Linked DNA regions of Homo sapiens: region 2 is linked to region 1. Evidence: fine-mapped expression QTL. A gene starts in region 1. The other region holds a variant in brackets. All regions are shown on one strand. Distances are between the middles of the regions.

Region 1 (17,010 bases):
CAGGGACATGGATGAAGATGGAGGCCATTATCCTTAGCAAACTAATGCAGGAACAGAAAACCAAATATCACATTTATAAGTAAGAAAACCAAATATCTCACTTAAAAGTGGGAGCTAAATGATAAGAACACATGGACACAAAAACGGGAGCAACAGACCCCACTGGGGCTCACTTGAGGGTGAAGGGTGGGAGGAGGGAGAGGATCAGAAAAAATAACTAATGGGTACTAAACTTAGTAGCTGGGTGATGAAACAATCTGTACAACCCCAGTGACACAAGTTTACCTATGTAACAAACCTGCACGTGTACCCCTGAATCTAAAGTAAAAGTTAAAACAAAAAAAAGAAACAAATAATATTAATGCAATTATACTAATAGAAGGGCTTGGACTCAGATCCTCCATACACAAATTCTGTCTCTCATTGAGAAACACTGAGTCTGTGGTGGTAGGGATGGTGTGGGAATGTTGGTCTTCCTAGATCATTGGAATTACTATTTGGGGATGCATACCATCTGATTCTGTTAGTCGTTACCCATTTCCACCTATCCCATATCTTACAGAAGAATCATCTCAAGTACTAACTGCTTTATATCCCTTAAAACATTTCTAGTTGGGGCCAGGCGCAGTGGCTCACACCTGTAATCCCAACACTTTGGGAGGCCGAGGCGGTTGGATCACCTGAGGTCGGGAGTTTGAGACCAGCCTGACCAAGACGGTGAAACCCCATCTCTACTAAAAATACAAAAATTAGCCGGGCGCAGTGGCAGGTGCCCGTTATCTCAGCAATTCGGGAGGCTGAGGCAGGAGAATCGCTTGTACCTGGGCAGCAGAGGTTGCAGTGAGCCGAGATCACGCCACTGCACTCAAGCCTGGGTGACAGAGTGAGACTCTGTCAAAAAAAAAAAACAAAACTTTCTAGTCGGCCAGGCATGGTAGCTCACATCTGTAATCTCAGCACTTTGGAGGCCAAGGCCGGTGGACCACCTGAGGTCAAAAGTTTGAGACCAGCCTGGCCAACATGGTGAAACCTCATTTTGTATTTTTTTTTCTACCAAAAAATAGAAAAATTAGCCAGGTGTGGTGGTGCACACCTGCAGTCCCAGCTACTGGGGAGGCTGATGTGGGAGGAATGCTTGAGCCCAGGAGGCGGAGGCTGCAGTGAGCCAAGATCAAGCCACTGCACTCCAGCCTGGGTGACAGAGTAAGACCCTGTCTCAAAAAAAAAAAAAAAAAAAAAAAAGGACTTTCTTGGACAAACAAAACAGGAAATTTGTCACTGGCAGACCTGACTTACAAGATGTTAAAAGAAGTTCTTCTGGTCAGGTGGGATGGTTCACACCTATAATCCCAGCACTTTGGCAGGCCAAGGCAGGAGCATCGCTTGAGCCCAGGAGTTTGAGACCAGTCTGGGCAACAGAGTGAGACCCTGTCTCTATAAAAATTAAAAAAGAAAAAAACATAGCCAGGCGTGGTTGCATGTGCCTGTGGTCCCAGCTACTTGGGAGGCTGAGGTGCGGGGACTGCTTGAGTCTGGGAGGCTAAGGCTAAGCCTGCAGTGAACTGTGATCGTGCCACTGCACTCCAGCCTGCACGACAGAGTGAGACCCTGTCTGGGAAAAAACACTAACAAACAAACAAATAAAAATCTTTATTTCTCTTATTCTGAACTGTTAACAGTTAACAAACAGATACGTTTGTTTAAAACAATAGTAGCAACAATGTATTTGGTGATTACAGTTTATGGATCAGAGAAATCCATGACAGCAGTAATATCAAGGACAGGAGGGGAGAATTGGGAGGACTCCATTCTAAGGTACTTGCACACTCCATGCAGTGGTATAGTGTTATTTGAAAGTGGATTTGGATTAGTCATAAATGTACATTGCAGACTCCTGGGCAACCACTAAAAAGGTTTTCAAAAGAAGTATAATTGATATGCTAAGAGAGGAGAGAAAATGGAGTCATACAAAAAAAGCTGACGCTTTTAAATGTTTGCCTGAAAGCTTCAGGGAGTCATTGAAAGACTTTAAGAAGAAGAGTGACAAGATCAGATATGTAGTTTACTAAGAACAAACTGGGTAGTCATGAGAATAAACAGGATGTGGATGGACCTCACGGGATGCAGGGAGACCAGCTGGACGAGAACCCCAGTAATCCAGGCAAGAAGAGGTAGGGCTCAAATGAACCCACGTGCACTCAGAGGAGAGACCAACAGGAGAGAATCTTTCAAAGAAGCGGAATGTTAAGGTCTGCTAAGCAATAGGTATAAGAGGAACATTTTATCAGTCAAGGTTCAACCAGAGAAGCAGAATCAGTAGATTACAGACAGACAGACAGGTAGATACCAAAACATAACATGGGGCAACATGGAGTTCCTCTAACTCCTGAGCTCAAGCAATCTGCCTGCCTTGGCCTCCCAAAGTGCCAGGATTACAGGTGTGTGCCACTGCACCTGGCTATGACACACACATATACATATTTTATATATTTCTAAAATATATTTGTATACTATAATATATATTTTCTAAATATATAAATTATATAACTATATAAATATATAATTTTTTAAATTTATAGATATAGCAACATATATTTATAATATATAAATTTATATATACATTTATTTATATAGACATGAATTACGTTTAAATATAACATATAAAAATAATATATAAACATAAATAATTCATATAGCTATATAAAATCATATATAAATATATAACTTTATATGTTATAAATATATGTTGATCTATCTATATAGATTTTATAATTTTTTCTTCTTTTTTTAGGCAGGGTCTCAGCTGGTTGCCCAGGGTAGAGTGGAGTGGTGCAATCATAGCTCACTGTAATCTCAAACTCCTGGGCTCAAGGAATCCTCCCATCTCATCCTCCCTAAGTGCTGGGATTACAGGCATGCACCACTCCTGGCCTAAATATATATAATGCTGACGTAATATAATATTGATAAAATATAGAAATTGATTTATCACAAGGAATTAGCGAATTGGCTCACATAACTGTGGCTGTTGGCTAGGCAATCCTGAAGTCAGCAGGGCAGGCGGCCAGCAACAGACCATCCCAGGGGAGAGGGAGCAACGCGGGTAATGGCTCAGAGTCCAGAACCTCAGAGGGGGTTCAGGGGTGTTCTAGCCCTCCTTTAAAGGGCTTCCACCTGATTAGGTCAGGCCACCCAGGATAATCTCCCTTTTGATTAACTTAAAGCCAAACAATTGAGGAATTTAATTAGGTCTGCAAAATCCCCTCACAGCAGCACCTAGATTACTGTTTGTCTGAAGAGCTGGAAGATGGTGTGTGTGTGCTCCTGGGTAGCCACTATAACTGGAATATACCAGAGAGGGAATCCCGGGAGTCTTGCTTAGCTTAGCCAAGTTGACACATGACAAATATCCAGAGTGATACCTAGGGTTTCTGACTTGGGCGATAGGTGCTAACAGGGAGAGCACAGAAAAATTGGCTTTGAGGGAGAAAATATTAATAGTAAGCTTGATTTCTGCATGTTAAGTTTCAAATACCATGGGATTTTTTTTTTTTTTTGAGACAGGGTCTTGCTCTGTTGCCCAGGTGGGAGTACAGTGGTATGATCATGGCTCACTACTCCAGCCTCCACCTCCCAGGCTCAAACGATCCTCTGACCTTAGCCTCTCAAGTAGCTGGGACCACAGGCATGTGCCAACATGCCCGGCTAGTTTTTGTATTTTTTGTAGAGACAGGGTCTCCCTATGTTGCTAGGCTGGTCTCAACTCCTGAGCTCAAGGGATCTACCTGCCTCAGCCTCCCAAAGTGCTGGGATTACAGGAGTGAGCTACCAGCCCCGGTCCTGCCATGGGTTTTTTTTTTTTTTTTTTTTTTTTTTGAGAGGGAGTCTTGCTCTGTCACCCAGACTGGAGTGCAGTGGTGCGATCTCGGCTCACTGCAACGTCCACCTCCTGGGTTCAAGCAATTCTCCTGCCTCAGCCTCCTGAGTAGCTGGGATTACAGGTGCGTGCCACCACACCCAGCTAATTGTTTGTATTTTTAGTAGAGACGCGGTTTCACCGTGTTAGCCAGGATGGTCTCGATCTCCTGACCTCGTGACCCATTACCCGCGTCGGCCTCCCCAAGTGTTGGGATTACAGGCGTGAGCCACCAAGCCCGGCCGGGATTTTCTTAAATGCAATAGGCCTCTTCCTGTCTCAGGTCCTTTCCAAACACAATACTCAAAAGCTAGTCTTTCCTCTCTTCACTAAATAGTACCTATTTGTCCTTTTATTTTTTTGTACAAATAATTTTCAGATTTACTTCTATAGCTTCTACTACTAGGTCATTTTGTTTTTTTCTTGGAAATAGCACCTTAGCTAAGTTAAATAATTCACCTGTGAAGTGAGGTGGTATGTTCATTTTGCTCACGACTGTCACCCCAGTGCCTAGCACAATATTCAAGTATTTGCTGAATAAGAAGTTCATCAGCCTGTGGGTATTCAGGCTTGAAAGGAAACAGAGGTCAGAGCTAGAAGGAAAAAACTGAGTCAGCAGCATCGAGGTGATTTACGATAAAGTTTTCCAGTGAGAACACACAGAATGGGAAGAGGAGAGAGCTGAGGACAAACCCTGAAAAATCAGGACATTTAAGAAGCCAAGGCCGGGCACAGTGGCTCACACCTGTAATCCCAGCACTTTGGGAGGCCGAGGCGGGTGGATCACCTGAGGTCAGGGGTTTGAGACCAGGCTGGCCAAGATGGTGAAACCCCATCTCTAATAAAAAAAAAAAATACAAAAATTAGCTGGGCGTGGTGGCAGGCACCTATCATCCTAGCTATTCAGGAGGCTGAGGCACAAGAATTGATTGAACCCAGGAGGCGGAGGTTGCAGTGAGCCGAGATTGTGCCACTGTACTCCAGCCTGGGCAACAGAGTGAGACTCTGTCTCAAAAAAAAAGAAGCTGAGGCCGGGCACGGTGGCTCATGCCTGTAACCCCAGTGCTTTGGAAGGCTGAGGCGGGCGGATCACGAGGTCAGGAGTTTGAGACCAGCCTGGCTAACATGGTGAAACCCTGTCTCTACTAAAAATACAAAAAATTAGCCGGGCGTGGTGGCAGGCGCCTGTAATCCCAGCTACTTGGGAGGCTGAGGCAGGAGAATCACTTGAACCCGGGAGGTGAAGGTTGCAGCGAGCCGAGATGGCGCCACTGCACTCCATCTTGGCAACATAGCAAGACCCTGTCTCAAAAAAAAAAAAAAAAAAAAAAAAGAAGCCGAGAAAAGGAAGCCCCCAAAGATGGGAAGAACCACCAGAAAGAAGAGAGAAAGGAGGTGGAGACAGGCACAGGCCTGTAATCCCAGCACTTTGGGAGGCCAGGAGTTCAAGTTCAAGAAAGGAGGCAGAAGGGACAGTGTTGGGGAAGGAAGAGCAGTGGTCAATTTTTAGATTTTTCGTTAAGGCGGAAGAGACATCAGGAAGCTGATATGCTGGAGGTACGCCATTTCCTAAGAGGAAAGACCAGGAACAAGAGGAGAGGCTCAATATGGAGTATCCACAGCGCCCTGGCCTGGCCCCGATGCTTCTCTGAAGCGGCAATCTCCAGAGAAGTCAGAAGGCAGACAGAAAGAGTCCACTGCCAAAACAGACTTCCCCTCTCCCTGCCACCTGGCCTCCTGCAGGCTGCTTCAAAGACCAAAGGCATTTATCTCAGTCCCAGCTGAAGCAAGAGTGGGAGGAGGGGAAAGAGTTCACTTTCCCATGCTCTACATGAACCTAAAAGGAGTCAGCTTGGCTGGCTGAACACACGCTGCCTTGGCTTACAGAGCCCCAGGCTCATACATGCTGGAGACAGCCTGACTGAGCAAAATGCTATGCCTCCCCCTCAGCACACACATACACACAGAGCCAGACCTTCTCTGACATCTCTGTTCACCTTAACACAACATTGCAAAGTCCTCTGCTTCTCAGAATGGAGGGACTATCATCAAGGGGTAATCTAAACATTTGCTAATTATGCAAGAGCCTTTGCCTTCTTAATTGAAGTCAGGATAGAAACTGCAGAGTCCCTGTCTTAAATAAAACATAAAGCCAAAACAAAAACAAAACAAAAAAAACACTAAACGATCTGTCTGGAACATTTCCCCCCACACACCCACTGTCCCCCAATGGGCACTCTTCCCCGACTCCTTCAGGACAAACTCAAATCCTTCTGTGATATATACTCCTACAGCATCCTGTCCTTTGCAGCATGCTGGGCGTTTGTGATTGTCACCTTCTTGTCATTGACTGTGATTTGTGTAAAGTCTGCCTCCCCTGACAGACTGTAAGGCTCACAAGCATCGGGATCATGTCTGTGATGTTTACTGCTACATGTTTCACATGCCCTCGAAGAATATTTACTGCTTACCTGAAATGCATTCCAACTTCTTCTTGGGTCTCTTGGCATCAAGGATGTCACCTCTTTTAAGTCAAACTTAGAACCTGCCTAGGTTACAGAATTAAGAGCACGCTTTCTTTCATGAAGTTGCAAAACTGTCTACCTTGCCTGTACTAAGTCATACTGGTCTCTAAATTTTCTTCTACAGTTACTGTCCCTCCTCCCACACAAGCCACATCTAGTCTTCCCTAAAAAGGTCATCATCATGTCCAGGGTAGCCCCACTTCTGTATGGTCCCACTACTAGGAACAAAGTAGGAGTAAAAATCAGACCAGTGATTTAATGATATCTCCCTCCTAGGATTAGAGAATGTCACAGCTTGAGGCCGGGCGCAGTGGCTCACGCCTGTAATCCCAGCAATTTAGGAGGCCGAGGCGGACGGATCACGAGGTCAGATCGAGACCATCCTGGCTAACCCTGTGAAACTCTGTCTCTACTAAAAATACAAAAAATTAGCCAGGCGTGGTGGCACGCACCTGTAATCCTAGCTACTCAGGAAGCTGAGGAAGGAGGATCGCTTGAACCCGGGAGGCGGAGGTTGTAGTGAGCCAAGATCGCACCACTGCACTCCAGTCTGGGTGACAGAGCGAGACTCCGTCTCCACAAAAAAAAAAAAAAAAAAAAAAGAGAGAGAGAATGTCATAGCCTGAAGACATGTGATCTAAGATCTCAGTTTACAGAAGAGGAAACTGAAGCCTAGAAAGGTGCACATGGATTGGGCCACCACAGTGGGCATTTTTGATACACTTGGCCCTGCACTAAGCGCTTGCAGCAGATATAAACACGAACAATCAACAGATCCAGTCCTCAAAGATTGGACAACAGCTAAGGCCTTACTTCCCCAAGGTCCTCTATCCACTATAGCCTACTTGCCAACTCCGAGGCCTGGCACGGTGGCTCACACCTGTAATCCCAACACTTTGAGAGCCCAAAGCAGAGAGATCACCTGAGGTTGAGAGTTCAAGACCAGCCTGACCAACATGGAGAAACCCCCGTCTCTACTAAAAATAAAAAATTAGCCAGGCGTGGTGGTGCATACCTGTAATCCCAGCTACTTGGGAGGCTAAGGCAGGAGAATCGTTTGAACCCGAGAGGTGGAGGTTGTGATGAGCCGAGATCGCACCGTTGCACTCCAGCCTGGGCAATAAGAGTGAAACTCCATCTCAAAAAAAAAAAAAAAAAAAAAAAGGAAAGAAAGAGAGGGAAACAAAGAGAAAAAAAAAGTAATAGACTACTGCCACCTCTGACGTAATGCTCATCCTTCCCAGAAAGAGCAGATTTTCTCTGGCAAATGGTATCAGAGATCAGAAAACAAGCTTCCAAATTCCTTCTGAGGTATCCTCTTACAAGCAGAAGTGCACAAGATTACTGTTTGTAGCCCCAGGTAGGGAGAAAAACGAAACATCATCGCTGGTACTCACATCAGAGGAAGATCAAGGTAGCCAAAGACCCCAGAAGGTCAGACACAAAGACCACTGAGACAGGCAAGGATTAAGGTCAAGGCTGCCTAGAGCAAGCTGGAAAATGAGGGTAATAATTACAAGAGCAGGCCCAGGTATAGGCTTATGGGTACTCGTCTGACTCCAAGGCAAGTGGGCTGTTAGGCACCAGACAACTTAGAAAGAGCAACCTCCCTTGCCTTTTTCACAAAAGGGCCAACAGTCTGGAGATGAGTAGATTATAGGGGTTTGTGCTCCTGTATCACCTCCATTCATCACCTCCTTAGTCAAGGCTCTGAACTGCTTTTTCTCTCCAAGGATCTGAAGCAGGTATGCAAGCAGCAGATGTTGATTTTTGTTTTCATTTTTTTTTTTTTTTTTGAGGCAGGGTCTTGCTCTTTCACCCAGGCTGGAGTACAGTGATGTGATAATAGCTCCTGGGCTCAAGCAATCCTCCAGCCTCAACCTCCCGAGTAGCTAGGACTACAAGTGCGCCACGGAACCTGGCTAATTAAAAAAAATTTTTTTTTGTAGAGGCAGGGTCCTACTGTGTTGCCCGGGCTGGTCTCCAACTCCTGGGCTCAAGCCTTCCTCCCCTTCCACCTCTCAAAGTGCTGGGATTATAGGCATGAGCCACTGCGCCTGGCCGCAATTACCAATTTCTAGGGGTTGTGAAAATGAAATTTGGTATGAAATGTATTTCATTAGGAAGGATGTAATTTCCATACGGGCTGATTTTGTCCACTGCTGTGTCTCCAGCGTCTAGAACAGGGCCTAGCACGTTTGTGTAAACTCTTCTTATAGTCCTCTGCATCGGGAAAGGGATGGGAGGTAGCACTTCCCAACCCACCCCAGTGTCCCACTTGCTCTTCCTTGGCTAAAAATGCAGGCTCATTTTTGCCTCCTCCAGGACTACAGATGGTACGCGGTCCTGTCCAAAGCAGCTTAGCAAAACCGGCCAGAGGCTGGGCACAGTGGCTCACCACTTTGGAACACCTGTAGTCTCAGCACTTTGGGAGGCCTAGGCGGGCGGATGGCTTGACCCCAGGAGTTCGAGCCCAGCCTGGGCAACATGGCGAAACTCCGTCTCTACAAAAACAAAATACAAAAAATTATCCAGGCGTGGTGGCGCCCGCCTGCAATCCCAGCTACTCGAGAGTCTGAGGCGGGAGAATCGCTTAAGCCTGTGAGGCAAAGGCTGCAGTGAGCCGAGATCGCGCCACCGCACTCCGGCCCGGGCGACAGAGCGACACCCTGTGTCAAAACAAAAACCGGGCCGATCCCCAAAACGCCTTTCACCTGTGCTTTCAGCTCACCTCAGGGCTCAGGGCCAGCCCCCAGGCTGCTTCTTGCCCTCCGACAGACGGCCTCCCCCCATCGGTACTCCCCCATCCCGGACAGCTCGTAACGCCCCAGCCGCTCGGCCTGGCACTCCTAGGCAATGGGGGTCAGAGCAGAGGGGCCCATCTGCAGCCCCAGGGCGCACTTCGCGCCACGTGGCTTCTGCAGGTGGAAGTCCAGCCCGCGCTGCAGCCCCGCCTGGGCAGTCAGGACAGCAATCTCAGCACCCACCCGAGATGTGGGGATTGGAGGTAGACAGGGCGAGCGCCATTGTCCCAAGGCCCCTTACCTGGTCCCGGGACAAATGCCACCAGTTACAGCCCGCCTTGAAAACTGGCCCGGGTGAGAGGAGGACCTGGGCTGGGGAACTGCCCCCACGCCCGCCCCACGCCCCTCCTTTTCGACCAATCCCAGGCCGGGAGGCTCCCGCCAGCCACGTGGGCAGGCTTTCTCCACTCCCTGGTCCAGGCGAGCCGGCGGCGGCCTCTGCAGCTCCCGTAGCCCGCCCACTGCGTGGGCGGGCGCCTTAGCGCACTTGCGCACTCTGGGGAAAGCGGAGCTGCACCCCGCCCCGTATTGCTGCTCAGCTCCTCAGCTGTGCGTGCGAGGGACGTCGGGGGCGGCGCCGCAGCAGTTGCCCCTGGTAACGGGGGAGGCAGCAGGAGGAGGAGGAGGAGGAGGGACTCGGCGGGAGGATGGTGAGTGTGGGGGCCTGGGCCCCCTTGGAGCCGGCCGGTTATCCCCCTCCCGTCCCCAGGCCCAGGGCGGAGCACTGCGCTTAAAGCCAAGGAGGGAATGGGACGTCGCTCAGCCTGCTATCTGGGTTGTGGACTGATTTCGGGGGTCGGCGGGGAGACCCGAGGGTGGGCCCTGGAGGGAGGCCTGGGCCTGGAGAGGAAGGCGGGGCTTGCAGCGGGTCCGAGGCTTGGGGAAGGGGCTGGCAGAGTGCGCGGCTGGCCGGGTGCGGAGCCCGGGCTCCATCATTACTCTGGGGACAGGGGTGAGGGCGGATCCCAGGAACTGCGGAGAGCAGCTTTCGCTAGCAGGCTTAGACTTCCCGGGCAATCGGTCTCGCGGCTTTGCAGTAAAGTGGGGTTCGTCTGGAGCCCGGCCAGAAGCGGAGAGAAGGCCGGCCCCATTGGCTCTGAGGTCGCCCTGGCGGTAGCAGGGGAGATGGTAGCCTAGCTCTCCTCCTTCTCGCGCTGTGCGGGCCCCTGGGGGGTAGGGAAGTAAGTCCCACGACACAAAGGGGTGCCGCTTGGAAGGGATGCCTGGTGGATTTTACGCCGTCTTGGTGTCTGCGTGGCGGGTGCGCTTCCTCAGTCCCGAATTATTTAGTTATTTGCTGAGAGTTTTGCAGGATCTGATTGTTGGTGATGACCGATTTTTCATTCAATACATAATCCATGTTGATGAAGACATATTAGCTGCTCCGTCTCTAGAATTTCCTTCGAAACCTTTTGCAGTCTCCTCTTGCGTGTGACCATACCAGGACCAAAAGATCTTAATCCTAGCTTGAGTTCTCCAAACTGAAAAGAACGAGAAGTTAAAAATGGAGATCGAACTTCAATCCGGGGCAAGGCTTTTCTCTGTCAGTCCCAATTAAAGCTTTCCCAAATTCTAAATTATGGTTGTGACAGATCTGACCGTTGACACTCTGTTTCTTGTTAATGTCTGTACAGTTAGTTGGAGGGAGTTAAAATGGAATTGAGTAATTTTAGAGCTATCAAAGAAAAATTGATTTTGAACACTTAAAGCAGGTTAGTTGGCTGCAAAGAGCCTGTCATCAAACTTATAGTCACTGCTCCAACTCTCTTCCTAGTTCCTTTCTTGACTTTTAGAAATGTTGAGCCATTTCTGTTGATTTAAGAAGTAAAAAAAAAAACAAAAAAACTAGATGCCCAGGAAAAAAAAAAATAGATGTATGTTTGGTCAGATTATCCAGTGAGTAGATTTAGAAAGGAAAAAAAAAACTCAATTGATTTTACATTGTCAGATTGTTAAAGAAGTAGGGTTATTTGATCTGAAGTTGCCAATCACATTTCACACTTGCTACACTTGCAGTTTTTTTTTAACCTCAGGCTAAACAGATTTTTACAACTGTTTCTTTTTCTTAATCATTTATACGTGAGCTGTCCTTTTAAAGTTAAAGTTTTTCTCAACAAATGAGTACAAACATAAATATTTACCCAGAAAATAGCTAGAATTGGAATGAAAAGGGCATGCCGAACCAACAGAGATTGAGATTCATCATTATGGATGAGAAGTGCATGAGAGTTGGCTAACTTTTCCCAGTTTGTTGATCAATTAAGTGTACTGTGTAATCCATGATTGTTTAATTTATAATTACAGGCCACAGTAAATTAACCACTGCCCATGTTTCCAGGTGCAAATTGGCACAGTATACAACAAATTTACAGTGTATATACAACACTGTTGTATACAACTGTTGTGTTCAATGATGAAAACAGATTTTGTTTTTCTTTTTTCCTTTTTCCTAAGATGAACAATAAGAAATTAAGACAAATTATTCCGGATTCTTTATCTGGTTTCCCAAAAACATTTTTTTTCTATCTCCACAAGCGTGAGCTGTTCTTAAAACTTGAAGTGAAACACTGAATTTAGTCAGTCGTGTGACTTAAGTGTATCCCATCTGGTATCCCATGAGCCCCCATGGTTAACTGTACAACTGAAGCGTGAACCCCAAGGTTTTTTTGGTTTTTGTTTTAAACTTCAGCTGTGACAAATACATATTTTTTTTCAAATTTGGGTAACTGTGGCAAAAACCCAAATATGGGTTTCTCTGAACATTTAGAGTCAGCTATTTTACCCCTGCTTTACAGTGCCAGGTTCTTGATGAATTACTAAAATACTAAAATGACAGTAATTTTAGCACGTAACTAACCACTTATATTTAACATATGATTCCTTCATTCAGTAATTATTTATGGAGCACTTTCTACATATATGGAGCTTGTGGTCGTTCTCAAGCATGTTCAACATTTGAAGATTGTTCCCAACAGTTACTTATGTTTTCTGGTTAGAAAATGGCCCGTGAAAAATTATTTTAAAAAAATAAACAAAACACGAGGGTAGTCTTTTCAGTGGCTGTTATGTGTCATGCTTTACATACATGACCTCATTTCATCCTCATAGCATCATCTCTTGAGATGTAAGTATTGTTCCTGTTTTCTTCTTTTTTTTTTCTTTTTTTGAGACGGAGTCTTGCTCTGTCACCCAGACTGGAGTGCAGTGGCGCGATCTCCGTTCACTGCAAGCTCCGCCTCCCGGGTTCACGCCATTCTCCTGCCTTAGCCTCCGCAGCAGATGGGACTATGGGCGCCCGCCACCACGCCCGGCTAATTTTGTGTGTGTGTGTTTTTAGTAGAGACGGGGTTTCACCATGTTAGCCAGGATGGTCTGTATCTCCTGACCTCGTGATCCGCCCGCCTCGGCCTCCCAAAGTGCCGGGATTACAGGCGTGAGCCACCGCGCCCGGCCTGTTCCTATTTTCTAGCTGAAACTGTGTGCAGTGTTATGTATATACATATATATATATAAAAACACACACACACATACATATATATACATATATATATACAGATACATATACATACATATATATATATATATACACACACACACACACACACACAGAAGCTGAATACAAGTCTGTGAAATTCTAAAGCCCATAACATTCATTTCATTAGGACTCTGGTGAAGTGGGAACCCACTCTTCCTGAGGAGATGCTCAGACTTTGTTCCTTAGGAAACATTGTTTGTATTTATTTAGGAGAGGGTGATGAGAAAGAAGACACAGTTTGGATTAAGTTCTCAATTTTGAGCTTTAAGCTGATAGGAGTTCAGTTGAAAGACGTAAAAACAAATGGAAGTCAGTTATATTTAAGCTAGTTATGGGGACCGTATGTACTTGACTGTTGGCTTCGTAATTTCAGAATTCAAATTTTAGCTGGTCCTCACAACCACATATATTTTCCATATACCAACGCATTCCTTCTCCCTCCACCACTCTGGTTTCTTTGAATGACCTAGTTTGTATTGTTTTAGGTCAGGGCACCATGCCTCTGCCAGTAGTTTAAGCTGATTTCGAGGCAGATAAAACGTCTGTAGTCCATAGCACATCTATTCATGATTTGACTGTAGAAAAGTTTGTTTAAATGTTTTGTGGTTGAGTCAGACCACTTCTGCCCACCAGGGTGTAGATAACTTGTATACACACATGCTGGTAACACACAATATACTTTTAACTGAAGTTCATGTTTCTTAAATTGTTTTATTTAATGTCACAGGAATATAAATCCTACATAGAGATCATGCCCGTTTTGCTCACTGTTGTACTTGGGGCACATTAAGGGTGTTTAATGATAATTGCGTGAATGGATATTTTGGCCAAAAAATGCACTTTAAAAATTAATGTCATTGTATTTATACTGCAAAACTCAGCCCTATGATAAATTTAACTTCTAATCGCTGTCTCCCTTCATTTGACAGTTAAAATAAAATATGGGCATATATGTATAGATGCACAGAATAGACTTATTCTGGTCTCTTTCATCCAGCCTCTTAAATCAGCTTACTTTGTACCTTTCAGGCAGAACCCTGATCTCTATAAATATCCTCTTCCCTATTTAGCAAACCCTGATAATCCTGTGATCCCATCCTCAGTAGTTGGATTAATATGATGCTGTATTATATTTGCACTTGTCTTCCCTAGACCATGCTTGAAATGCCATTTATCATTTTGCTGGAAGAAAACATTAGCTGAACTTTGCATTTCTCTGTAATTTCACTCAAAGGTGAAGTATCTGAAGTTATTATTTCCTAATAAGGAAAATTACTCATTAGAAATGTAGAAGCACTGTATTCTACACCATTAGGTTAATAAAGTTTATCTATAGTTAGAATTTTTTTTTTTTTTGAAACAGTCTAGCTCTGTGGCCCAGGCTGGAGTACACTGGTGTGATCTCGGCTCACTGCAACCTCCACCTCGCAGGTTCAAGCGATTCTCCTGCCTCAGCCTCCCAAGTAGCTGGGAATATAGGTGCCCACCACCATGCCTGGCCAATTTTTTGTATTTTTAGTAGAGGCAGGGTTTCACCATGTTGGCCAGGTTGGTCTCAAACTCCTGGCCTCAAATGATCCGCCAGCCTCAGCCTCCCGAAGTGCTGGGATTACAGGCATGAGCCACTGCACTCAGCCTTATAGTTAGAATGATTTCTTTTTCTTTCTTATCTGTGCTTTGCTCCTCTCCTTTTAAGGTGAATAAACATTATGTTTGTCTCTTTTTTTTTTTTTTTTTTTTTGAGACAGAGTCTTGCTCTGTCACCTAGCCCATAATGCAGTGGCCCGACCATAGTTCACTGCAGCCTCAAACTCTTGGGCTCAAGCCATCCTTCTGTCTCAGCCTCCTGAGTAGCTGGAACCGCAGGTGCACACCACCACACCTGGATAATTTTTTTTTTTTTTTTTTGGTAGGGATATGTGTCTCGTGTTTGTTGCCCAGGCTGATCTTGAATTCCTGGCCTTGAGCTATCCTCCTGCCTCAGCCTCCCAAAGCACTGGTATTACAGGTGTGAACCACTGTGCCTGGCCTTGTTTTTCTCTTAATTCTTTAATATCAAATGTAATGAGTGTGGAGCAAGTCTCTGCCTGAAAAAAAAAACAGTATTTTTAGTAACTTCTTTAAAAGAGACACATGAGGAAAAACCCAAAACATTAATTTTAAACTTTGAAAATATTTTATAGGCCGGGTGCAGTGGCTCACTCTTGTAATCCCAGCACTTTGGGAGGCCGTCACGGGCAGATTGCCTAAGGCCAGGAGTTTGAGACTAGCTTGGGCAACATAGTGAAACCCTGTCTCTACTAAAAATACACAAAATTAGCTGGGTGCGGTTGTACACATCTATAGTCCCAGCTACTCCGGAGGCTGAGGTGGAAGGATCACCTGAGCCTGGGAGGCTGAAGCTGTAGTGAACCATGATTTCACCACTGTACTCCAGCCTGGCATTAGGAGTGAGACCTTGTCTCAAAAAAAAAAAAAATATATATATATATATATATATAATATATGGTTTTATTTTTTGTTTTTGTTTTGAGATGGAGTTTCACTTTTGTTGTCCAGGCTGGAGTGCAGAGGCATGATCTTGGCTCACTGCAACCTCTACCTCCTGGGTTTAAGCAATTCTCCTGCCTCAGCTTCCCAAGTAGCTGGGATTACAGGCATGTGCCACCATACCCGGCTAATTTTGTATTTTTAGTAGATACGGGATTTCGCCATGTTGGCCAGGCTGGTCTCGAACTCCTGACCTCAAGTGATCCACCCACCTCGGCCTCCCAAAGTGCTGGAATTACAGGTGTGAGCCACCACACCCGGCCAAAAAAAATTTTTTTTAAAATAGGAAACAGATCTTCCTTCATAATTTCTGCACTAAGCAGAAAATGCATGAGAAGAACTTTGCCTGTGTCATTTAATGTACTAATTTGATAAATTCCAGATGTTTTATAATTTATTTTAAGAGGTAATGAGACCTCTTCTTTTCACTTACAATCAGGAACTCAGGATGAGTAGTAAAATGGGTTTTCCTCTTAGCCTTTTTATGTCACCAGTCCCCTAAGGATCTCAGAATTTTAATTTTTACTTTTCTGAAAGGTGATATTATAAATGAGTGATTGCAATATAGCTAATAGAAACCAGGGAGACTTCTTGTAAATATAGTTTTAAGAAGGAATGCTGTCAAAGTATTCAAGACCAGATGAGATAAAAACAGCAAAAAAAAAAATCTTGCCTTTGGGTGGATCGCTTGAGCTTAGGAGTTCAAGACCAGCCTGGGCAACATGGCAAAACCCCATCTCTACAAAAAATACAAAACTTAGTGGGGCGTGGTGGTGTGAGCCGGTAGTCCCAGCTACTGGAGAGGCTGAGGTGGGAGGATCGCTTGAGCCCAGGGAGTCGAAGCTGCAGTTAGCCGTGTTCACGCCACTACATTCCAGCCTAGGCCACAGAGGAAGACCCTGTCCCCCCAAAAAAAAGAAAAAGGAAAAAAAAGTCTGGCCTTTTAAAAAGCCAGACTTCTGTTTGTTTCCAATCTATTCAATCTCTGTCCCCCAAATCTTTTGGCATAGAATTTGTCTAGCTTAGACTAAACCTTCCATCTTACTGCTGGAAAAAATTGAGGCATAGAAAGGTTAATGTGGTCCTTAGCAAGTCAGTACAGATACAGTACTAGAAGTGGTAAACAAAGAGTCTCTGAGGCAGAAAGGAATTCTTAATAATTATGCATATTTGCGTATGATTGTCCAAAGATGCAGTTGTTGAGAATTATTTCTCAGAAGTATCCTTTGATCTTAGTGAACAAACTGGTTTGAATTATTGCCTGGTACAATGTGAATAACAAATACAACCATTTTGCATAATTCTAAGACTCAGTTTGAAGGAATTTCTTCTTGGGCTGGGAGATTAAATTATATGCCCTTTAAACTCTGGGATTCTTTGACTCTTGTTCTAGCCATGTGTCGTTAGAACAAGATTATCAGCTATAGCACAGAACAAATAACTTTCCTATAAAGATGTTCTTATGTTCTTAACTAAAAATCAACATGGTTTATTTATTTTTTCTTTGTTTTCTTTTTCTTTTTTCTTTTTTTTTCTTTTTGAGACAGAGTCTCACTCTGTCACCCAGGCTGGAGTGCAGTGGTACAAATACAGCTTACTGCAATCTCGACCTCCCAGGCTCTAGCAATTCTCTCACCTCAGCTTCCTGAGTAGCTGGGACCACAGGCCTGCGCCACCATG
Region 2 (13,740 bases), 21 kb before region 1:
AATTGCTCTGAAATCCATCATCCATTGCTTCAATCCATGTTCTTCTAGCTAAATACAAATGGCTTCCCTGCTGCCCTGCAAGTTGACAATTCTTCCTCTCAAATTTCCGCCACACACTACAACCATACCACATTAAACCAAATATTACTATATCATGGCCTCTTCTTTTAAATACTTCATCTACCTACAGAATAGAGAGTCCAAACTTCCCAACACGGTCCTCTCTGTGACTTCGTCCCTGTCTACTTCTCTTTATCTCACCTCTCACCACTACATTTTCCCACACATTCCACTCACACTGACCATTGAAGAGATGCCCAGTAACTTCATTTACATATTACAGATACAGTTCCCTGCTTACAAACTCCTAGCCCCATCTCCTTGCTGCTTCTTCTGGATTCTTGTAACACTTATATCTGCGTGCCTGGTTTGCAGTTTTTTGTACAGCATACCAGGTCTTTCTTCTTCTTCTTTTAAAGCCTATAATATCCTGTACAAGGCTCAACCAGAGCTTGATCAATGTTGGTAAAATAGCCAGGTGTGGTGGCTCATGCTTATAATCCTAGCCCTTTGGGAGGCTGAGGCAGGTAGATCCCTTGAGCTCAGGAGTTTGAAACCAGCCTGGGCAACATGGAGAGAACCCTGTCTCTACAAAAATAAAAAAACTAAATTAGCCAAATTAGCCAAGCATGGTGGTGCACACTTGTAGTCCCAGCTACTTGGGAGGCTGAGGTGGGACAATCACCAGAGCTAGGGAGATTGAAGCTGCAATGAGCCTTGATTGTGCCACTGTACTCCAGCCTGGGCAACAGAGTGAGACCCTGTCTCAAAAAAAAAAAAAGGCCAGGTGCGGTGGCTCCTGCCTGTAATCCCAGCACTTTGGGAGGCCGAGGTGGGCGGATCACATGGTCAGGAGTTCGAGCCTGGCCAACATTGTGAAACCCAATCTCTACTAAAAATACAAAAAATTAGCCAGGCGTGGTGGTGCATGCCTGTAGTCCCAGCTACTCAGGAGGCTAAAGCAGAAGAATCGCTTGAACCTGGGAGGCAGAGGTTGCAGTGAGCCAAGACTGTGCCACTGCACTCCACCCTAGGTGACAGAGTGAGACTCTGTCTCAAAAAAAAAAGAAAAAAAAAAGTTGGTAAAATAAATGGACAAAGGAAGACCCATGGCAAATAACACAGTTGACTTTAGCAGTCAATTTCCTCTCAAAAACCTGTCAAAGTGTTTTACAGCCTGGCCCAGTCTAGCCCACATCTGAGCCCAGAGGAAGTTGTTCTTGGCTTAAGTGTTGGAAAAATGGGAAACAGGTAAGAGTTAAGTCAGTCTTCCCTCAGCTTAAGAAAGTCCATAGTTCTGCCTTTATCTTGATCCTGCTTTTCCAAGTACTATAAAAAGTGACACGTATTTTTGCCAATCTCTCGTTTCTTAGAAATTTATCCATTCCACAAGTCAAGCTCCTTAGAGGAGAAGTAAAAATTGAGTACTAGGGAAGGACCAAATTATTTTCATGGCACAAGGTCTCTAATTCCTGGCCTCAAAAAGTTGTAAGTCTTCCACATAAAGGCTAGGTTTCATCATCACTAAGAAACCCCAGGTGGGATGTAGTGGCTCACGCCTGTAATCCCAACACTTTGGGAGGCCAAGGCATGAGGATTGCTTGAGGTCAGGGGTTCAAGACCAACCTGGGAAACATAGTGAGGCCCTCTGTCTACAAAAAATTTAAAAATTAGCTGGGCATGGTGGCATGTACCTGTAGTCAGGAAACCTTTAGGATTCTGGTTCTAGCCAGGATTGAGGAAAAGACCTTGGATCAAAAGGAAGCTTCTATACCTCTTCTTCTTCCCTTCCTCCTCCTCTCCCGAGCAATGGAACCTTTTACCCATGCTATTCTAGCCGAACTCAGGAAAAAGAAGCTACTCGGGAGGCTAAGGCAGGAGGATCACTTGAGTCCAGGAGGCTGAGGAAGCAATGAGTCATGATCATACCATTGCACTCCAGCCTGGGCAAGAAAGTGATACCCTCTTTCTCTCAATAAATAAGAAACCCCAATTCAGTTTGGCAAACACAGGGGATTTTGCCCCAACTTCCCTTTCTCCTTTTACCTGAAAGCTCAAGCTGAGCTATTGGATAGGACAGTCTGGATTAGCACTTCCCACACCAAGGCCTTTTAGTAACCTTAACTGCCTCTTATTCAACATCCCACAGCAGCCAACTCAAAGAAGAGAGATGTTACAAAATGAGACTGAGATGCAGTTTGAGTGACCACTTTTTAGAATGTCCCTGAACATTATAGCCACCACATACCTTCCAGACATTTCCAAAAGAGCAGTTGTCTATAAGAGAACAGGAAATCCAAGAGGCTTGAGGAGCTGAGAAGGAAGGGGAAACATTGTATGTTCTGAAAGAACATCAGTCAGGAGTTGTTTCCAAGCTCTACTGGCTCTGGTAATGTTTCCCTTTTCCTATTTGCTTTTGGAAATAAAGCCAGGTCTCCTGTCCTAAAGAAGCTAGCTCAAAGACAGACTTTTCTGTTCAGACACCAGCTAAAATCAAATTGCATATGCTACAACATGGATGAACCTTGAAAACATTATCCTAAGGAAAGAAACCAGACACAGAGGGCCACATACTGCATTACTCCACTTACATGAAATGTTCAGAATACGCAAATCTCTAAAGACAGGAAGTGAATTGTGAGGCGCTGGCAGGTAGGGAGAATGTGGAGTGACTGCCAATGGGTATGGGGTTTCTTTTGGGGCTAAGAAAAATGTTCTGAGACCAGATGCAGTGGCTCATGTGTGTAATTCCAACACTTTGGAAGGCTGAGGGAGGAGGATCACTTGAGGCCATGAGTTCGAGACCAGCCTGGGGCAACATAGTGAGACCTCATCAAAAAAATCAAATTAGCCTGTGGTCCCAGCTACCCCAGAGGCTGAGGCAGGAGGATTACTTGAGCTCAGGAGGTTGAGGCTGCAATGAGCAGTGATTGCACTACTGCACTCCAACCAGGGTAACAGAGTGAGATCCTGTCTCAAAATAATTCTGGAATTAGTGGTGATGCTTGTACAACTTTGTGACTACATTAAAAACCACTGAATTGTACACTTTAAAAGGACTAAGTTTATGGTATGTGAGTTATATTTTAACTTTTTTAAACGGGGAGAAAAATCAAGTTGCAGTGAATTCCTTGGCCTCGGGGAGGAGGCCCTTTCCCCTTAGAGCAGTGCTCCTCCACGTATGGTGCCAAGACCAACAGAATCAGCATCACCGGGCAATGACTAGAAATGCACGTTCTCAGGCTCCAGCCCAGAGTGACAGAATCTGGCAATGGATCCTGCAATCTGTGCTTTAACAAGCCTGCCAGCTAATTCTGATGTGTTTTCTTTTTTTTTTTTGAGACGGAGTCGCCCAGGTTGGAGTGCAGTGGCGCAATCTTGGCTCACCACAACCTCCACCTCCCAGGTTCAAGTGATTCTCCAGTCTCAGCCCCCCGAGTAGCTGGGATTACAGGTGTATGCCACCACACCCAGCAAATTTTTTGTATTTTTAGTAGAGATCGGGTTTCACCATGTTGATCAGGCTGGTCTCGAACTCCTGACCTCAGGTGATCCACCTGCCTCGGCCTCCCAAAGTGTGGGGATTACAGGCATGAGCCACTGCGCCCGGTTGATGCATGTGCTTAAGAACCACTGCTCCAGGGCAGGGGAAACTTTTTGTGTCAAGGATCAGACAGTAAATATTTTAGGCTTTGTATGCCACATAGGTAGGGTCTCTGTCATTCCTGTTGTTCCCTTTTACAACTCTTTAAAAATGTAAAAACAT[T/A]CTTAGCTTCCAATTGCACAAAAACAGGTGGCAGGTGGATTTGGCCCCTTGAGCCATAGCTTGCCAACTCTTGCTCTAGGGCAACACAGCTCCCATTCTGGGAGATCTGGAGCTTCCTGTGGAGACAGGTGGATTTCCCCTTTAATGAGGGAAATAAACAACAGCCTCCAGGCATCAGACAAGTTCCCCTTATATAGTAGTTGTGATACCTTCTGACATGCCAAGGCCAAAGTAAGGCCAGATCCTGCTTTCCATTCAGGCTTCATTAACTTAGTTTACAGTTTGTGTGTATGTGTGCCTGTGTGCTCTTTCAACAAATTTATTCAATTCACAGTGATATCTGTTGGACAGAGTCAGCAATCCTACCAGACAAAACTCATACACACATTGATTCCAGATGAGAAACAACAGTCCCCCAAGGAGCTTGAGAAATCACCTAGGGCAGCCAAGCTGGGGAAGGGAAGTGGCTGTGCATTGCTGTGTGTCCTTTAAGGCTCTTTGGTCCTGGTTGATTTCCTCTTAGAAGGTTCCAAATAAAACTTCCCTTTCCTATTCAGTACACACCAGTCTTTCTTTGGTGTTTAACCTAATGGGCTGAGGAAGGGAGGCAGCCAGGAAATTATACCCATTAAAGTGTGTGGTTAATGCCTATATATATCATTTTTACTCACAGTTAGTGGACTTATCTTTTAAAACAGAGGTATGTGGCAGTGGGGTAAGAGAACTTCCCTTATTATAGAGAAGATTCCAAGAATAGGTTCAGACATGATTTGAAGAACCATGTAACTCTGCTGCCTTGCACGGTCCCCTTTTTAGCACTAATAACTCCTAAGTGTCTGATAATTTCAAGGTTAGCAGCACTCCCAAAGAAGCTGTCCGGGCTGGGTGTGGTGGCTCATGCCTGTAATCCCAGCAATTTCAGAGGCTGAGGCGGGCGGATCACCTGAGGTCAGGAGTTCGAGACCAGTCTGGCCAGCATGGTGAAACCCCGTCTCCACTAAAATACAAAAATTAGCCAGGCGTGGTGGCAGGTGCCCTGTAATCCCAGCTACTTGAGAGGCTGAGGCAGGAGAATCGCTTGAATCCAGGAGGCAGAGTTTGCAGTGAGCCGAGATCGCGCCACTGCATTCCAGCCTGGGCGACAGAGCAAGACTCCATCTTGAAAAAAAAAAAAAAGAAGCTGCCTGACCAGGGGGCAACGAGGAGGAGGATGTGGAAGGGTGATGAGCCCCAAGGGGACAGAGTCCTTTCCCCCTTCTTTTTCCTGAGTTCAGCTAGAATTACATGGGTAAAAGTTTCCATTGCTTGGGAGAGGAGGAAGCGAAGAAGAAAGAGGTATAGAAGCTTCCTTTTGATCCAAGGTCTTTTCCTCAACCCTGGCTGGAACCAGAATCCTAAAGGTTTCCTAACTTTTCCAAATGATTTGCTTGGATGTCTCCTCCCTGAGAGGGCCTCAGCTTCTGGTCTCCAGGGGACAGGGGTTGAGGAAGCAGCTAGAAGACATTGGCCTTTGCTACCCTTTTTCACTTTTTTCCCCTGAGGTCCAATCAACCAGTACCAGGGTGTAAGTATGAGGCATTCATTGTCCCACCCCCCAATCTACCCTGGCCTTCAGGCCTTGTTGGCAAAGGGGAAGGAGGACACAAGTGTGCACGTAGCTAAGGAGGAGCTGGTGAATATGGGAATAGACTGGTCCTTGCTGAAGTGGGGCATTTAGAGACCCTTATTGAAGTAGACATAAGGCTCAAGTTCTCCATACTTGGCCTTGATAGTGTCTTGGAGCTTCGGTTCCAGATAGGAAACTGGCAATTCACTGAAAAGAGAGAAGTGGATTATGAGCATGCCACCAGGAACAAGCAGTAAGTTACCCTCAGATGAATATCACCTCCAAGAAGCCCTCCTGATTTTTCCATCTAGGATTATTATTGGCCTCTGTATACCACAATGTTGCTTTACCATTACGCAGGCCTGACTTCATTCTCCTTGGGCTATGGTTCTTCGTTTCAACTTCCATCTTCTCCACAAGATTACAAACACAGTGCTTGGGACACAAGAGATGTCTAGCAGATGACCATGGAAGTAGTATTGAACTAGAGTACTGAGGAAGGGGAGACTGGAATTGTCTGGGTATATATTCAAGCTACACTTGTCTCCTGGGGTCAGTCACCCTCCACCCCCTAGTCTGATGTATCCCTTCCCTTTTCCATCATCCCTTCTCCCTGCTTCCTCCTTCTTGGACACACAAAGGAAATAGAGGGGTTTCGGTTGTCAGCCCTCTGCCTGTCCCTTTATTTATTTATTTATTTATTTACTTATTTATTGAGATGGAGTTTCACTCTTGTTGCCCAGGCTGGAGTGCAGTGGTGCAATCTCGGCTCACCGCAACCTCCACTTCCCAGGTTCAAGCAATTCTCCTGCTTCAGCTTCCCAAGTAGCTGGGATTACAGGCATGCACCACCACACCCAGATAATTTTGTATTTTTAGTAGAGACGGGGTTTCTCCATGTTGGTCAGGCTGGTCTTGAACTCTCGACCTCAGGTGATCTGCCCACCTCGGCCTCCCAAAGTGCTGGGGTTACAGGCGTGAGCCACCACGACCAGCCCCCTTATTTAATGTTAACGACCAACGGGGAACGGTGGCTCACGCCTGTAATCCCAATACTTTGGGAGGCTGAGGCGGGCAGATCACCTGAGGTCAGGATTTCAAGACCAACCATGGCCAACATGGTGAAACCCCATCTCTACTAAAAATACAAAATGAGGCCAGGCGCGGTGGCTCACGCCTGTAGTGCCAGCACTTTGGGAGGCTGAGGCGGGCGGATCACAAGGTGAGGAGATTGAGACCATCCTGGCCAACATGGTGAAACCCCGTCTCTACTAAAAATACAAAAATTAGCTGTGCGTGGTGGCACGTGCCTATAATCCCAGCTACTCGTGAGGCTGAGGCAGGAGAATCGTTCAGGGAGTCGGAGGTTGCAGTGAGCCGAGACTGCACCTCTGCACCCCAGCCTGGCGACGGAGTGAAACTCCATCTCAAAAAAAAAAAAAAAAATGAGCTGGGCATGGTGGCAGGCACCTGTAATCCCAGCTACTCTGGAGGCTGAGGCAGGAGAATCACTTGAACTGGGAGGCGGAGGCTGTGGTGAGCCGAGATCGTGCCACTGCACTCCAGCCTAGACAACAAGAGTGAAACTCCATCTCAAAAAAAAGAAAAAAAAAAAAGTTAAAAACCAGATCCAGCCAGAGGAGAGCTTCCTAATAACCCAGCTGGCAGGAAGAGAAAGTCTGTTGTTGCTCCCCCACCTTCTCTTCAAGGCAGTGCTTGCTCCACTGGGAGGGAGCAACCTTATTCCTGTCCCTGGCTTCTCCTGCCCCTCGCAGATCTGTTTTCGTTTGTCAGAATTCACCAGGGTTAAGAGGCCCAGCCTTTAGGCTGATGGACACTTGTCCTCAGACAGGTGCTGCCCTTCCTGCCCCTTCCCTGTCTCCTTCTGGACAGCAGGCAGATCAGGGAGCGCGCTGGCAGCATGGTCAATTAAACCAAGTAAGGAATGAACAGCAGATACCATTTCTGTGGGAAAAGCCCACACGCCACTGGCACCATGAAGATGAGGCTGCAAGAAAGGAGAAACCAAAGCATCAGGGGACATCTCCCCACAGGCCCGTCCATCCCCCATCCCCAAGGGAAAGGAGCAATGCCCAGGCACCTGGCCTGCCTTCCCAGCTGGCACCATATCCTCTCCCTCCAACCCTCCTCCTGTTCCCGCAGTGCGAGGATACTCATTCTGGCAGGGGGATAAAACCAGTACCCTCCTGACCCCCATCACTCATTCCCACCCTTACTGCATTGTTCAAGCAGAGGAAGAAGACAATGAAGTAAACAGGGACTGTGAGCAGCAGGCCTAAGGAGCACAGGCACTGCTGGCATCGAGCGAAAGGAGCGACGAGGAGGGAGAGGAGAAACTTGGAGGGGGAGGAGCAACATGGAGGGGGAAGAGCGACATGGAGGGGAGGAGCATCATGGAGGGAGAGGAGGGACATGGAGGGGGAGGAGCGACATGGAGGGACAGGAGCAACTTGGAGGAACAGCATGGAGGGTGGGGAGCGACTTGGAGAGGGAAGAATGACTTGGAGGTTGAGGAGCAACTTGGATGGGGAGGAGCGACTTGAAGGGGGAGGAGTGACTTGGAGGGAAGGAACTACTTGGAGTAGGAAGAACTACTTGGACAGGGAGGAGCAACATGGAGAGGGAGAAGGACATGGAGGGGAGGAGCAACATGGAGAGGGAGGAAGGACACAGAGGGGAGGAGGGATGAGGAGGGAGAGGAGCAACTTGGAGGGGGAGGATTGACTTGTATCGGGAGGAGTGACCAGGATGGGGAGGGGCACTTTGGAGTGGGGGAGGGGCACTATGGAGGGGGAGGAGTGAGTCTGTGGATTCTGAGACCTGCTTCTTTATTGGTTGAACACCTGGGCTGTCAGAGCACAGTGAAAGGCAGTTTCTCCAGCTTCACTGTGCATATAACTTCAGGAGCTTATTAAAATGCCAGGTGCCAACTGAGGGGGTCTGGGGAAGGACTTCAGAGTCTTTACTTCTAACAAGTTATCAGAGGATGCCAACGATGCTGGCATGGACCAGGGTTTGGGAGGCAAGGTCTTACAGGACGCGGGACTCTGACAGACCTGGGTTGGTATCCCAGTTTTACCACTTACTAGCTGTGCCATCTTGGACAAGTTACCTCAGAGACACAGAGGGAGGACAACCTACTTTTTAGGGCTACTGCAGACCACTTTGCAGTGCCTACTTTGCAGGGTTACTGTGAGGATTCAATGAGATATGTATGTAAAGCACCCAGCCCATGGTAACTACTCAATTAGCAGAAGTTGGTATAGCATAATGTTAGACTGTTGATCAAATCTCAGCTCCAGCAGTTACCAGCTATATACCCTTGGGCAAGTTTCTTACTCTGTCTAAGTCTCAGTTTCTTCATTTGTAAAAGGAGATGATAATAATATGTAGATTTCTAAGGCTGGGAGAATTAAGTGAAATTATAGATATGAAACACTGGGTTCAGTGGGGACACAGAGAAAATATACAGTCAGTGTTAGCTGTTAGTGATGCTGTCATTAGTCTCGTGGCCCTGAAATGCATGGTGAACGCTAGGACATCTCCAGTTAATGGCAGATACCTAAGAACCCTGACGTGACTGGTGGCATTTCCCTCCTGTGTGAGTCTGGGACACATGACAGTCCCAGCCAAAGCTATGTCTCCTCGTTCTTATCTCTTCTGTAAAACTGCTCCAGACAGCCAGGCGCAGTGGCTCATGCCTATAATCCCAGCAATTTGGGAGGCCGAGGCAGGTGGATCACTTGAGGTCAGGAGTTCGAGACCAGCCTGGCCAACATGATGAAATACAAAAATTAGCAAGGCATCATGGTGCGTGCCTGTAATCCCAGCTACTCAGGAGGCTGAGGCAGGAGCATTGCTTGAACCTGGGAGGTGGAGGTTGCAGCGAGCTGAGGCTGCGCCATTGCACTCCAGACTGGGCGACAGAGCGAGACTCCATCTCAAAAAAAAAAAAGCAAAAAACAAAAAAATTGCTCCAGACTTAAGGTCAAAGGAGAGACCCTGGGATGGGAGGGCACCTCAGCACTGGACTTCCTACATGGACACGTGCATAAAGTCTAGCCAGCCTGATGCCCTCACAAAAGATGGGGTGAGAGCTTTCCAGATGGACCACAGGTATTCTGAGCTTGACCACTTTTAAAGTCAGGTAAAGGAGTACACGTTCTCCAACACGGGCTAGACAAGACGACACATCTTGAGTGCTCCAGCCACGCAGAACCCAAATCATCAAAATATGATACTTACAAGCACCCGCTCAGCATGACCTGCAATGGGGCGTGCAGGACCTTGACTTTCTGTATAAAAACAAATAAAAGACAGATCCACATGGTACTTCTATGCCTTAAGGTGAACCCCAACCCTGCTCTGCCATGGATCAGCCAGCTAGAAAAGCCCACAGGTGGCTGGGCGCAGTGGCTCATGCCTGTAATCCCAGCACTTTGGGAGACCGAGATGGGCAGATCACAAGGTCAGGAGATCGAGACCATCCTGGCTAACACAGTGAAAACCCGTCTCTACTAAAAATACAAAAAAAATAGCTGGGCGTGGTGGCAGGCACCTGTAGTCCCAGCTGCTCGGGAGGCTGAGGCAGGAGAATGGCATGAACCCAGGAAGCGGAGCTTGCAGTGAGCCAAGATCGCGCCACTGCACTCCAGCCTGGGCGACAGAGCGAGACTCCATCTCAAAAGAAAAAAGAAAAACCCACAGGCAAGGACCCCCTGGCCCTTAAAGAAGGCCTTGTTCTCTGCAGACCAGGTAAGGAAACTGGCCATGGTATATCTAAACAGGAGGTCAGTGGAGATTGGTGTGGGCTTGAGTGAGATGACAGCATGGTAGCTAAAGGGAAGGATGGGTGGGGGAGGGCAGGTCAGGTATCCCTAGGGACAGATGTGGCTGGACGCACTCTGGGCAGGGAAAATGCCAAAGCAAACCCTACATACCTGCATGAAGTGCAATTTCTCAAGCCTTTCCATGATGACTGGCAGCAAGACTGGAAGAGACCAGGGAGAAGCTGAGGGGAGGGCTGGGAGGCTCTCCCCAGGACTCCTTCTGAAGTCAGACCAGGAACCAAGTGGTTCCCTCTCCTTCAGCAGAAGCTCCAGAAAATACTTACCACTAGGCAGAACAGAAGAGCAAGTAGGCATGACCACCCCCAAACTTTCTCCCCAAAGTCCTGGCAGAACAGTGCTTCCCAAGCTTCTCAACCTGCACACTTGCAATATCAGGAAAACATGTGCTGCTAGGTCCAAAGCTACCTTCTCAAAACTCAAAAATGTATTTGTACGTTCGTGCAAACAAATTTTGCAATACACCCACTGCTGGAAGCAAACCAAAGCAGGGAATTTATTTTCTCTATCACTCTCCCTAGCACCCCACACTGTGTCTAACATTAAACACAAGGGCTTGACAAGTATTAATAAAATGAAAATAACTTTCTACCCCAAACCTTGGATGAACTGATGTTCTAGGAACTAGTGTGGTTCTTCTAGGCTTACAGCAATCAAGCAAAGCAGTTTGAGAAGCATGGCTGTAGAAGGTGGGCCCCACCTCCCACCCAAAAGCTGAGTGTGGCTGAGACCTCCACCCTGTGTCACAGGCTTCCCCAGGATGGAAGGGCTTCCCCATCTTACTCATCCCAGGAGCTGACATGGTGATCCGAGAAATAACTACTTGGGTGATGCCTATGGCCGCAGCTCTCTGAGGGCAGAAAATAGTAAGTTGTCAGAAATGATGTATCCAGTGTACATGTGCTGCACCAGGGGGCTGGGTCAGCATCATGGCCAAGTCTGAGATGGTAAAGGGGAAGGGAAGGACCCTCCAGTTGCTGAGTGACCTCACTTTATCCCCTCCCACCTAGCCAGGTTTTTATGGACCAGAAATGATGGAGAAAAGAGAGAAGGGGCCTGTTCTGAACAGAGAAACATGGGGAAAATTTGATAGGGAGTGAGGATGGAGCCAGAAAAGGCTTCTCAATCCTATATTGGTGCCTACTCTGACCACTAAGGAGGGGACAGGGTATGAGAGGGAATTCCCTCCTCCCACCCCAAAGGGAGGCCTCTGCTCACCCGGGAATGACCAATCTCATTTTCATTCCTGTCCTTCACGCAGATTCCCTTTATGAGCTCCCTAAACACAGACAGGAGTTAATGGACTTGGGAAAGGGGTGATGGAAGCCTGCCAGCCACATGACATGCCAGGGGACCAAGGCCAGGCCACTTAAGCTCCAGGAAGCCACCTCCTGTAGCCTGGGCCTTTGACCTTCCTTCTGCACTCCAATAAGCAGTATCTTAGGAGTGATCTAGGGCAGTGGCTGAGAGCGGTGGCCCTGGGCCCGGACTGTCTGGGTTGAGTCCTGAAACTGCAGGGGATGTGTGTGACCTTGAGCACAGTCTTTAACCCTCCCAAAGCCTCAGTTTTGCTTATCTGCAAAATGGGGATCATCCTGGCACCCACTTTACAGGACCTGGTAAGGATTAAATGAGATAATGGCTATGAAATACTTGGTCCAGCACCTGACACACAGTGTGATCACTCCACAAACAGTAGCTACTCTAGCTATTCCTTTTTTTTTTTTTTTTTTTTTTGAGACAATCGCACTCTGTCACCCAGGCTGGAGTGTAGTGGCATGATCTTGGCTCACTGCAACCTCCATCTCCTGGGTTCAAGCGATTCTCCTGCCTCAACCTCCCCAGTAGCTAGAATTACAGGCATGCGCCACCATGCCCGGCTAATTTTTGTTTTTGTTTTTTGGTTTTTTTTTTGTGATGGAGTCTCACTCTGTCACCCAGGCTGGAGTGCAGTGGTGCGATCTTGGCTCACTACAAGCTCCGCCTCCCGGGTTCACAACATTCTCCTGCCTCAGCCTCCCAAGTTGCCGGGACTACAGGCACCCGCCACCATACCTGGCTAATTTTTTGTATTTTTTAGTAGAGACGGGGTTTCACCGTGTTAGCCAGGATGGTCTCGATCTCCTGACCTCGTGATCCGCCCACCTCAGCCTCCCAAAGTGCTGGGATTACAGGCGTGAGCTACCACGCCTGGCCCTAATTTTTGTATTTTTAGTAGAGATGGGGTTTTGCCATGTTGGCCAGGCTGGTCTCAAACTCCTGGCCTCAGGTGATCCTCCTGCCTCAGCATCCCAAAGTGCTGGGATTACAGGCGTGAGCCACCGCACCCAGCCCACCCCAGCTGTTCTTCTCAGGCCAGTTCTTGACAGCACTCAACTCAAGCCCCGGTAGGTGGCAGGGACTCATTCTCCTGTTAGGAAAGGGCCACTGGATGGGGAAGGAAAGATGAATGGAGCAGCATGTGTGCACAACTATTCTGGTAGTGCTTCCTCTACAAAGACTAGTGTGAACATTTTCCATTTGTTGGTAGTCCCAAGAAAATGTGGCTTGTAGATATTGATGATGATGACAATGGTAGAAATAACAGTGAACACTTATGTAGCATCTCTTATGTTCCAGGTGCTATTTTGAGTGCTTTACATATATTACATCATTAAAACCTCATAACAGAGATTTCTCTAGTCAAGAAATAAGAACTGTGAGACACAATGAGTTTCTCCTTTACCTTTTCTCCTGAAAAGCTTAGAGTTGGGTGCCTGGAAAACTTCTGTCTACTCCTCTGGCTTCTTTCAAAGCTTCTGGGTTCTATGCTATCTTTAGACACCTCAGCCTGCTACATTTCATTCTGTATGCCATCCCCAGGGCTTGGGAAGTAGGAGGAGTTCACAATTTTAACACAGGTCCAAAAGGACATGATCCAGTGTAAAACTCCACAGGTCCACCCTGTCTTTCCCATCCCACATCACCCAGGAGAGGACTCCCACGGGACTCAACACACGGCCTAACCCAAAGTCACCCACCACTCCCGGGGCCATCACCATGGGAGCTGCCAATCCCAGGGCCCTTCAGAGGCTCAGCCCAGCAGCCCTCCCCATGCCCACCGCAGTCCCCAGAAGCCACCCACTGCTTTGGTTTCTTGCCCCTTTTCTGCTAATCTTGTGGTTTGTAGGGAGAAAAAGGGGCCTTTACTCACTGCTGTCGCATCATGGGGATATTGACACAGTTAGCCGCAGCCACAGCGGCAAAGGGCACCCAGCGGCCCACCAAGGGCGGCGCTTTCTGTTGGGGGAAGAGAACAGTAGGAGTTGTTCAGAAGCGCTGGAAGATGGGAGGGGAGGGGGCTGAACGACTAGAATACAAAAAAGAAAACTAGGCCTTGCTACCGCCACACATCCAGACACCCAGTCTGGGAACCCCAAACTCCCTCAAAGGCCCAAGAA

The links.
Region 2: its variant is fine-mapped to the expression of SFXN2 in tibial nerve (GTEx, PIP above 0.99).

Annotation. Positions count from the first base shown.
Region 1 is chr10:102,707,158-102,724,167 of GRCh38, reverse strand. It overlaps SFXN2 (sideroflexin 2), which reads right to left and starts at 9,532. Exons shown (of 12, transcript NM_178858.6): 1 at 9,487-9,532. It overlaps ARL3 (ARF like GTPase 3), which reads left to right and starts at 9,771. Exons shown (of 6, transcript NM_004311.4): 1 at 9,771-9,895. The coding sequence starts at 9,893. RefSeq lists enhancers at 8,554-9,129, 9,130-9,706 and silencers at 9,492-9,641, 9,460-9,854, 9,922-9,971, 10,012-10,111.
Region 2 is chr10:102,729,562-102,743,301 of GRCh38, reverse strand. It overlaps SFXN2 (sideroflexin 2), which reads right to left. Exons shown (of 12, transcript NM_178858.6): 6 at 13,494-13,579; 7 at 11,519-11,579; 8 at 11,084-11,150; 9 at 10,394-10,443; 10 at 9,699-9,748; 11 at 7,393-7,440; 12 at 1-5,639. The coding sequence ends at 5,540. Among named protein-coding and RNA genes, the nearest start is that of WBP1L, 7.5 kb to the left of the region's middle. RefSeq lists an enhancer at 12,982-13,740. The variant T/A (reference allele first, on the strand shown) is at 3,827.